Linked DNA regions of Homo sapiens: region 1 is linked to region 2. Evidence: fine-mapped expression QTL. A gene starts in region 2. The other region holds a variant in brackets. All regions are shown on one strand. Distances are from middle to middle.

What was found. PIP is the estimated chance that this variant, and not a neighbour inherited with it, causes the effect. A credible set is the group of variants that fine-mapping cannot tell apart.
Region 1: its variant is the best candidate, but not a certain one, in a credible set for the expression of LTC4S in monocytes (BLUEPRINT, PIP 0.51).

The regions. Positions count from the first base shown.
Region 1 is chr5:179,710,380-179,715,748 of GRCh38, reverse strand. The region is part of intron 7 of CANX (calnexin); the gene reads right to left. Among named protein-coding and RNA genes, the nearest start is that of CANX, 14 kb to the right of the region's middle. The variant C/T (reference allele first, on the strand shown) is at 2,079.
Region 2 is chr5:179,790,626-179,795,994 of GRCh38, reverse strand. It overlaps LTC4S (leukotriene C4 synthase), which reads right to left and starts at 2,009. Exons shown (of 5, transcript NM_145867.2): 1 at 1,857-2,009; 2 at 312-411; 3 at 139-209; 4 at 1-54. The coding sequence starts at 1,914. RefSeq lists silencers at 1-404, 1,950-2,019 and enhancers at 214-886, 2,370-2,519, 2,540-2,619, 2,194-2,821.

The DNA of each region.
Region 1 (5,369 bases), 80 kb after region 2:
TGGACTTACAACTACTTCCCAGTACAAAAGGTCCATTTCTTCATTTTTAATAGAGCTGGTATTATTACGTTACTGAAATTACACAAACCTCCAATTTATTAAAACGCATGTCCACTCATGATTCTACTTTCTACTTTTTAACTCCCATGGAGAATGAAAAAACAATTTTAAATCCATAAAAGCATTTTTTAAAATTTTATTTTATTTTTTTGAGACAGAGTCTCGCTTTGTCTCCCAGGCTGGAGTGCAGTGGTGTGATCTCGGCTAACTGCAACGCCCGCCTCCCAGGTTCAAGCGATTCTCCTGCCTCAGCCTCCGCAGTAGCTGGAACTACAGACGGCCCCGTGCCACCATGCCCAGCTAATTTTTTGTATTTTAAGTAGAGATGGGGTTTTGCAATGTTGCCCAGGCTGGTCTCAAACTCCTGAGCTCAGGCAATCTGCCCAACCTCAGCCTCCCAAGGTGTTAAGACTACAGGTGTGAGCCACCGTGCCCAGCCACATGGGCCCCATAAAAGCATCTTAAGTGTGATGTATATTAAAGCCCAGATTCCACACCTAGATATCTAATACACAGGAGACTGAGTTACAGCACATCCAAACAAGGAATCCTATGCTGCTGTGTCAGTGATAATGAAAATGAATATTTCTGTGAGGAAGAACTTCACACTCTTTTGTTGTTAAGAAACGGGTGTGGTGGCTCATGCCTGTAATCCCAGCACTTTGGGAGGCTAACGCAGGTGGATCACTTGAGGCCAGGAGTTCGAGACCAGCCTGGCCAACATGGTGAAACCCTGTCTCTACTAAAAATACAAAAACTAGGTGGGCATGTTGGTGCACACCTGTAAACCCAACTACTTGGGAGGCTAAGGCACAAGAATCGCTTGAACCTGGGAGGTGGAGATTGCAGTGTTTCTGTCTCAAATAAAAAAGGGCCGGGCGCAGTGGCTCACGCCTGTAATCCCAGCACTTTGGGAGGCCGAGACGGGCGAATCACGAGGTCAGGAGATCGAGACCATCCTGGCTAACACGGTGAAACCCCGTCTCTACCAAAAATACAAAAAATTAGCCCAGCGTGGTGGTGGGCACCTGTAGTCCCAGCTACTCGGGAGGCTGAGGCAGGAGAATGGCGTGAACCCGGGAGGCGGAGTTTGCACTGAGCGGAGATCGCACCACTGCACTCCAGTCTGGGAGACAGAGCGAGACTCCGTCTCAAAAAAAAAAATAAAAATAAATAAAAAAATAAAAAAGTTAGATATAGCATGTAAAGTTGTATATGTGTATATACACATATTGACAAATATATATCACAATGCTGATGTTTAAGATAATTTTAAGTGACTTCTTTGTGTATGTTTTTATTGACATATCGTACTTGTACATATTTTCGGGGTACGTGTGATATTTTGATACATGTATATAATGTGTAATGACCAAATCACAGTCATTGGACGGGCCCAGTGGCTCATGCCTATAATCCCAGCACTCTGGGAGGCTGAGGCAGGCCCATCATTTGAGGTTGGGAGTTCGAGACCAGCCTGACCAACATGGTGAAACCCCAACTCTACTAAACATACAAAAAAATTGGCCGGGCATGGTGGCGCATGCCTATAGTCCCAACTATTCAGGAGGCTGAGGCAGGAGAATCGCTTGAACCCGGGAGGCAGAAGTTGCAGTGAGCTGAGATCAGGCCACTGCACTCCAGCCTGGGCAACAGAGAGAGACTCCCATCTCAAAAAAACAAAAAGAACAAAACAAAACAAAACAAAACAAACAAATCACAGTAATTGAAATATCTGTAACCTTAAACATTTACCTTTTCTTTCTATTTTATAGAGACAGAGTCTCATTCTGTGACCCACGCTGGAGTGCAGTGGCCCAATCATAGCTCACTGCAATCTCGAATCCTGGACTCAAGGGATCCTTTTATACCACAGCCTCCCGAGCACCTGGGACTAGAGGTACATGCTACCAAGCCTGAATAATTATTTTTTTGTAGGAACAAGGTCTCACTATGCTGCCCGGGCTGGTCTAGAACTCCTGGCCTCAAGTGATCCTCCCACCTCAGCCTCCCAAAAG[C/T]GCAGGGATTATAGGCCTGAGCCACTGCACCTGGCTCCATTTACTTTTTCTTTGTATTGGGAACAGTACAATTCTCTTCCAGCTCTTCTGAAATACACCATAAATTGTTCTAACTATAATTTCCCTACTGTACTATCAAATATTAGAATTTATTCCTTCTACCTTATTTCTGTACCAATTAACCAACTTGTCTTCAACCCCTCTCCCTCGCTTTAAGTGTTTTCTTTTTGCTTACTTATGGCTTCTGAATTTCTATACCTTAAATATGTATTACTTTTGGAAATAACAAAAAAAGGTTAAGCTGGGCTCAGTGGCTCACGCCTGTAATCCTAGCACTTTGGGAGGCCGAGGTGGGCGGATCAACAGATGGCCAAGAGTTTGAGATCAGCCTGGCCAACAAGGCTCTACTAAAAATACAAAAATTAGTTGGACATGGTGGTGTGTGCCTGTAATCCCAGCTACTGGGGAGGCTGAGACGGGAGAATCACTGGAACCTGGGAAGCGGAGGCTGCAGTGAGCCAAGATGGCGCCACTGCACTCCAGCCTGGATGACAAAGCAAGACTCCGTCACAAAAAAAAGAAAAAAAGGTTGTTATATTCTAGGCTGGGTACAGTGACTCACACCTGTAATCCCAGCACTTTCAGGAGCTGAGGCGGGCAGATCACTTGAGGTCAGGAGTTCGAGACCAGCCTGGCCAACATGGTGAAACCCGGTCTCTACTAAAAACAGAAAAATTAGCTGGAAAAAAAAAAAAATAATAATAATAAAAAAAAGAAAAATTAGCTGGGCATGGTGGCACAAGCCTGTAATCCCAGCTACTCAGGAGGCTGTGGCAAGAGAATCGCTTGAACCCGGGAGGCAGACGTCACAGTAGGCCAAGATCACGCCACTGCACGCCCACCTGGGTGACAGAGCAATACTCCGCCTCAAAAAAATTAAAAAGGTAGTCCAGGCGCGGTGGCTCACGCCTATAACCCAGCAGTTTGGGAGGCTGAGGCGGGCAGATCACCTGACGTCGGGAGTTTGAGACCAGCCTGACCAACATGGAGAAAACCCATCTCTACTAAAAAAAAAAAAAAAAAAATTAGCCAGGCGTGGTGGCACATGCCTGTAATCCCAGCTACTTGGGAGGCCAAGGCAGGAGAATCGCTTGAATGCAAGAGGCAGAGGTTGTGGTGAGCCAAGATCACACAATTGCACTCCAGCCTGGGGAACAAGAGTGAAACTCCATCTCAAAAAAAAAAAAGGTTATTATATTCTTCAGAAAGAGGCATGCCTATTTATGATCTCAAACTAGCAGGAAAAGCTTCAATAAACAAACAAACCAAAAAAAACCCTGTATCAAAATGATTCAACTCAATTGTCAATTGTCCAGGTATTGGAGCATCCAAATAAGTTCAACTACAAGATACTTCTGAAAAACTATTTTTATTGGATTTATGTATAATTATAAATATAACTTATTCTATTATTCAACATTTCTCAACAACAACAACAAAAAAAAGGAAGAAATTAGATCAGCAAAGCTCTTTGTAGAAAAAAAAAAAAAAAACACCTTTTTTTTTGGAGTGGGGGACGGAGTCTCACTGTGTTGCCCAGGCTGGAGTGCAATGGCATGACCTTGGCTCACCGTGACCTCCGCCTCCCGGGTTCAAGTGATTCTCCTGCCTCAGCCTCCTGAGTATCTGAGATTATAGGCGCCCACCACCCCACCCGGCTAATTTTTGTATTTTCAGTAGAGATGACGTTTCACCATGTTGGCCAGGCTGGTCTTGAACACCTGACCTCAAGTGATCTGCTCGCCTCAGCCTCCCATCGTGCTGGGATTACAGGCATGAGCCACCATGTCCAGCAAAAAATACCAATTTTTTTTTTTTTTTTTTTGAGACAGAGTCTTCCTGTCGCCCAGGCTGGAGTGCAGTGTCACAATCTGGCTCACTGCAACCTCCGCTTCCAGGGTTCAAGCAATTCTCCTGCCTCAGCCTCCTGAGTAGCTGGGATTACAGGCACCCTCCACCATGCCCGGCTAATTTTTGTATTTTTAGTAGAGATGGGGCTTCACCATGTTGGCCAGGCTGGTCTTAAACTCCTGACCTCAGGTGATCCGCCCACCTCGGCCACCCAAAGTGCTGGGATTATAGGCACGAGCCACCATGCCTGGCCAAAAACACCTATTCTATTCTTAAAATTATCTCGAACCTCAGTTCCTGTGGAAAAGAAGTTTTTTGGGTTTTTTGTTTTGTTTTTTGAGACAGCATCTCACTTTGTCACCCAGGCTACAGTGCAGTGGCAAGATCATGGCTCACTACAGTCTCGACTTCCTGGGCTCAAGCAATCCTCATACCTCAGCCTCCTGAGTAGCTGAAACTACAGGCACATGCCACTATACTCAGTTAATTCTTAAGATTTTGTAGAGACAGGGTCTGACTATGTTGTCAGGCTGGTTTGGAACTCCTGGACTCAAGCAATCCATCCGATTCAGCCTCCCGAAGTGTTAGGATTACAGGTGTGGGCCACCATACGTGGCCAAGAAGCTTCTTTTAATGCTGACAAATTAAGGTCATTTCCCAACTAAGATACTAAAGTGAAGAGATTCTTTTCTTTCGTGGAGGGGGTACAGAATCTTCCTCTGCCACCCAGGCTGGAGTGCAGTGATACAATCTTGACTCAACTGCAACCTCTGCCTCCTGGGTTAACGTAATTCTGCTGCCTCAGCCTCCCGAGTAGCTAGGATTACACCAGCTACTCAACACCACGCCCAGCTAATTTTTGTATTTTTAGTAGAGACGGGGTTTTACCATGTTGGCCATGCTAGTCTCGAATGCCTGATCTCAAGTGATCCGCCCGCCTCAGCCTCCCAAAGTGCTGGGATTACACGCATGAGCAACCATACCAGGCTGAGATTCTTCTTGTTTGGAGGCTGGGGTACTCTCCAGATATACAATCTTTTTTTTTTTTTTTTGAGATGGAGTCTTGCTCTGTCTCCTAGGCTGGAGTGCAGTGGCGCGATCTCGGCTCACTGCAAGCTCTGCCTCCCGGGTTCGTGCCATTCTCCTGCCTCAGCCTCCCAAGTAGCTGCGACTACAGGTGCCCACCACCACGCCCGGCTAATATTTTTGTATTTTTAGTAGAGACGGGGTTTCACCATGTTAGCCAGGATGGTCTCGATCTCCTGACCTTGTGATCCACCCGCCTCGGCCTCCCAAAGTGCTGGGATTACAGGTGTGAGCCACCGCGCCCAGCCTTTTTTTTTTTTTTTGAGATTGAGTCTCACTTTCGCCCAGGCTGGA
Region 2 (5,369 bases):
GGAAGTAGCGGAGGCGCGCGAACAGGTAGACCAGGCCGCACAGGGCCGCCGCCCCTGCGAGAGGTACGCACGGGCCTGGTGAGCGCCCTGCGCGGGTCCCGGGGGTCCAGCGCGTGCGCCCCTGCCCCACACCCCGACCTTCATGAAAGAAGATGCCGGCGACCCAGAGCGTGGCGAGGAACAGCGGGAAGTACTCGCTGCAGTTCACCCTGCGGTGGGCGGGTGGGATGAGCGCGCCGGCCGGGATGGTCCTGCGACCCGGACCCGCCTGGGGCTCGCTCCCCGCCCCGCGCCCTCCCGCCGCGCCTCACTGGGCTCGGTAGACGCGCTCGAACTCGGGTGGGCCGGTGGTGAGCGGCGGCGACACGCGGAAGGCCCTGCGCGCCGAGATCACCTGCAGGGAGAAGTAGGCTGGGGGAGGAGGGGGAGCGGGAGTCAGGTCTGGACACCCGAAGCCCCAGAGATGGGAGTGGGAGGGATCCTGCAATCTGGCCCTTCACTTGGCCGTGTCCTCTCCTCCCTAAGGCGGAACCCCGCCCCCTCCCCGCCCGAGGAGACCTCTCGTCTCACCCATCCCTGGCCTGCCCTGTGTCCCTGACATTCAGCGAGGAGGGCAGGGCTGAAGCCTGGGGCGCAGAGAGGCCCTGTCCCAACCTGTGAGTGTATGGGGGAGGGTGAGTGATTCAGGCACAGGGACACCTGCTCCGCGAGAGAGACCACTTGAGTCCTTGTTTCTGAATCATTTCACTCTCAAAACACAGGCAAATGCAGCTTTCAGGTCCCTGGCCAGGAAGTGCCTCGGGAGTCTGAGGGCAGAGCTGGCTGCATCCTCCCAGGTGCAAGGAAGCACACTCCCTGTAGCTAACAGTCCCTGGTCACCCACCTACCAGCGCCCACCAGCAGGGCCCTCTGACCCTGCCTCAGGCCGGGATCACTAAAGCCTGCGTCCCTGTGCCTCCAAACCTCAGTTTCTCTGTTCCTGCATTCCGGTCCCAGGCCTAAATCTGACAGACACCTTCTCTCCTGCTCCCAGGAGGTTGCAGCTGGGACTCTCCTAGCCTAACCCCAGGACCCCAGGGCTGGGGTAGTTGCAGAGGGTGGGCTGGCCCTAAAGTTTCTCTGTGGGCAGGAGCCCTTCTCTTGGTCAGGTGAGGCCAGGCCAGACCACACACAGACCAGTGCTGGCTGTGCGCTCCCTCCCCAGACCTCCCGTCGGACCATCTCCCCCTGAGTCCTGCAGCCCTGGCACCTTTGGTTCTGGGCCCTCTGCAGATGGGTGTCACAGGGTGGCCATCCAGCTCAGTGCAGGAGCAGCTGGAGGTCAGGCTGGCCTGTCTGTTCAGCCCCTTCAGAGCCCCCTCCCCAGGCTGTGCCTTATCCTAGCCCACACACTGTGGAGTAGTGGTGTCTCTTAGGTGGCAAGGATATCTGGCCAAGGAATGTGTCCTTTAGGGCCAGTCTGAGAAAGGCATTAAGCAGGCTCTTTTTAGGGGGCTGGAGGAAGGAGTCCCACCTCTACCCTGCTCCACGTGGTCCCAGTATGGAGGTGCCTTTGAAGCAGAGCCAGGGAATGGGGGCCGCTTGCTGGGACGCCCAGAGAGGGGACAGCTGGAAAGAGCAGAGATCAGCTTCCCCAAGCCCATGGCTATCCTACCATTTGTCCTGGCACCCTTGCCACCCCCAAGTCCTACAGCTCTCACAGCCAGGTGCCCCCCAGTTCCCTGAAAGTCCCCACCCTCTTCCAGCTTGGGCCTGGGCTGGAGTCCCCACCTCTGCCCTCCACCTGGGCCTAGGGGGCAGAGGGCAAGCTGTAGGGATCTAAGGCCCACCCTCTTCCTAGATAGGAACCAGCCCACCTTGCAGCAGGACTCCCAGGAGGGTGACAGCAGCCAGTAGAGCTACCTCGTCCTTCATGGTACCGTCGGTGTGGTGGCACGGGCTGTGTGTGAAGGCGAGCTGGGGAACGCTTAGCCCCGTCTGCTGCTCAGAGGACGGCCCAGGAGAGGAAGAGCAGCCTCGGTGCTCTCCCCGCCCCATCTCAGTGGAGGGGGTGCACGGGGGTGTGACCATACCACACAGAGCCAGGGAGCCAGGCCAAGCCAGCAGGGAGGAAACCAAAGTCTGGGCAGGGGAGAGCAGCTAGCTGGAGACCGCCTCACCACTTCCTGCTTGTTCGTGCCCCTTCCTTGCCTAGTCCCGCGTGGCAGAGCCCAAGCTGTCCATCTGGGTCAGCTCCAGCTGTGGGTGTGCCCCCTGCTGCACCACCCCACTTTCTCCAGGGCCTTGCAGACCCCCACATCATGCTGGAGCCAGCCCCAGGCTCCCGGCTAACTCCTCCACCCACCTTATCTGTTCCCTGTCCCCATCCAGGCTGTTCCTGGCAACCCCTGCCAAACCCTCCTCTGCGGAAGCCCTTCCCAGTGCCTTTGGCTTCAGAATGGAGTCCCAGCGCCCCCCCAGCCACACTGGGCCCCACAAGCTCTTTCTCCTTCAGGAAACCTCATGCCTGCCAGCCTTAGTCGTTGTAGGGGTTCCATGCACAAGGGCCACCCTGCCAGGAGGAAACCTGTCCAAGGCCCCCTGGGTGGCGGGAGGGTCAGCCCTTGTGGGCCATCCCTCTCCCAGGCCTCTCTTGGGCCTCCCACAACAGTCACCTGCTGTGTCTTTCTGCCCCGCAGCCCTCTTGCCTCAAGGTAACAACCCTCCACCACCTTCCTAGACGGCTGCCCTCCCCACACTCAGGCCCTGTGGTCTGGACAGTGCTGACTCCTGCCCCTTCCAGGCCTGTGAGATGGACACTGAGCCAAGGCTGACTCAAGATGGTGAGATGTAGTTCTGGAAACTTCCTTAGGACTTTGGGACAGGAAACTCAGAGTGGGGAGGGGGACTACGGCGGGCCACCCTGAGGACAGAGCCCACGCAGGGCCAGGTGGAGAGGAAAGGTGGCACCCGAGGACTCCTGCCTGGAGTTCTGGGTGTCTCCCTCGCCCCGCCTGGAGCGCCCCCGGCCGCCCCCCTCGCCCTGCCTGGAGTGCCCCTGGCCGCCAGCCTTCCCAGTTGGGCCTAACGGTCACTTCCTCTTTTGGCTTGAGTGGGTTTGCGGTGGCTTTTGGTCAGAAGTGGCAAAGTCCAGACTGACCCAGAAGCACGGGCAGGAGCTGGGGGAGGCCACAGGCCGTGCTGCAGGGGTCGGGCCGCATGGTTCTGCCCTCGCACCTGGTCCTTCCTTGCTGCCCCAAGCTCAGCTCCAGCCTGAGGCTCGGAGCCTGTTGGGCTCTCTCAGAATCCCTTCTTCCTCCTCTGGGTATCGCCCCTGCCCCCGGAAACCAGATATGCCCCAGCTGGGGGCTCTGTGAGCTCCTCCAGGGCAGGGGCCAGGGCTCAGGCCCGGCCCCTGCTTTAGACCAAGCTGTGACAGTCATCTTGGGGCTCAGTGATGGAGGACTGCCTCCTAGATCCCGGACACAGATGTAGTGCCAGGGAGCGATGGTGGCCGCGTCCTCAGACTCTGCCCACTCAGCCTCCTTCCTCCCTGAAACCTGCCCCACAGGGCCTGCCTGAAGGGTGGGATGCAGCCCACCACGCAGGGGTTGACGCTGGTGCCAGTGGGCTGTGCCCAGGGTGTCTGTGTGCACCACGCATACATACCTGCATGCCCCTTGGTCAGTTGTCACACACCCATGTCTCTGTGCTTGTGGGTGTCCAAGTGTCTTCGTGAGTCCAGGCCCTCCTGTCAGCCAAGCTCTCATTTCCTCCAAGGCCTGAATGTCCTCCCGTCGGAGTTCATCCCCTCAGTCCACAGCAGGAAGCCAAAGCCTAACATCAGCAGCTTCTGAGGAAGTCCCTTGGCAGATGTGCAGGGCAGGGACCTGGGTCTTGGCCCCGGGAGCCCTCCCCGGGTCTCTTGGTTCCCACCTCCCTCCCTCTGAGCCTGCCCAGGCTGTCAGGGCCCTGCCTGGGCTCAAGCCAGCTCAAGCTGACAGGAGGGCCAGCCAAGCCCCCACCCCTGCTCGGGCCACCCAGCTTCCATCTTCCTGTCTAGCTCTGGAGGCACCAGCATCAGGAGGGAAGCGAAAGCTCCTCCCTGAGCCTCCACAGAGCCCTAAGGAGTCTCTGATGCCCACTCACCAGGACCTCTGGGCGGCAGAAAGGCCGGCAGAACCATTGCACAGAGAAGAAATCAGAACTTCTGTGGAGTGGATCATAGGCAGTGCACAACTCAGACCCTGAGCTTGAACAAGAAAGTTTATTTAGAAATTATTTTATATTTGAGACAGGATCGTGCTCTGTTGCCCAGGCTGGAGTGCAGTGGCTCAACATGCCTCACTGCATCCTCAAACTCCCGGGCTCAAGCAATCCTCCCACCTCAAGCCTCTCAAGTAGCTGGGACCACAGGCTCTAATTTTTTTTTTTTTTTTCCAGAGATGGAGTCTTGCTATGTTGCAGGCTGGTCTCAAACTCCTGGGCTGAAGTGATCCTCTGCCTCAGCCTCCCAAAGTGCTGGGATTACAGGCATGAGCCACCATGCTTGGCTGAAATTATTTTAGACTTACAAAAAAGTTGCAAAAATCTACAGTCTCGGCCAGGCGCGGTGGCTCATGCCTGTAATCCCAACACTTTAGGAGGCTAAGGTGGGCGGATTACCTGAAGTTAGGAGTTTGAGGTCAGCCTGGCCAACATGGTGAAACCCCATCTCTACTAAAAATACAAAAATTAGTCAGGCGTGGTAGCAGGCACCTATAATCCCAGCCACTTGGGAGGCTGAGAGAGGAGAATTGCTTGAACCCAGGAGGCAGAGGATGCAGTGAGCCAAGATCACACCTGAGCGACGGAGCGAGACTGTGTCTCAAAAAAAAAAAAAAAAAAAAAAAAAAAAAAAAAAAAAAAAAAAAAACTTGTATAACCAAAATTCAGTTATAAACCAAGAGATTTCCATTGATACAAGTTAGTAATCAAGTATTTTACGGATCTTATTCAAGTTTCACCAACTGTCCTACTGGAATAGTACAAAGACCTCAAAAACTTTATGCTAAATTGTGCCAGGCTGGGCATGGTGGCTAACGCCTGTAATCCCAGCACTTTGGGAGGCCGAGGTTGTGGACCACCTGAGGTCGGGAGTTCAAGACCAGCCTGACCAACATGGAGAAACCCTGTCTCTACTAAAAATACAAAATTAGCCGGGCATGGTGGTGCATGCCTGTAATCCCAGCTACTCCGGAGGCTGAGGCAGGAGAATTGCTTGAACCCAGGAGACAGAGGTTGCAGTGAGCCAAGATCGCGCCATTGCACTCCAGCCTGGGCAACAAGAGCGAAACTCCGTCTCCAACAAAAAAAAAAAAGAAAAGAAAAGAAAAAAAAAAAAAGGCACA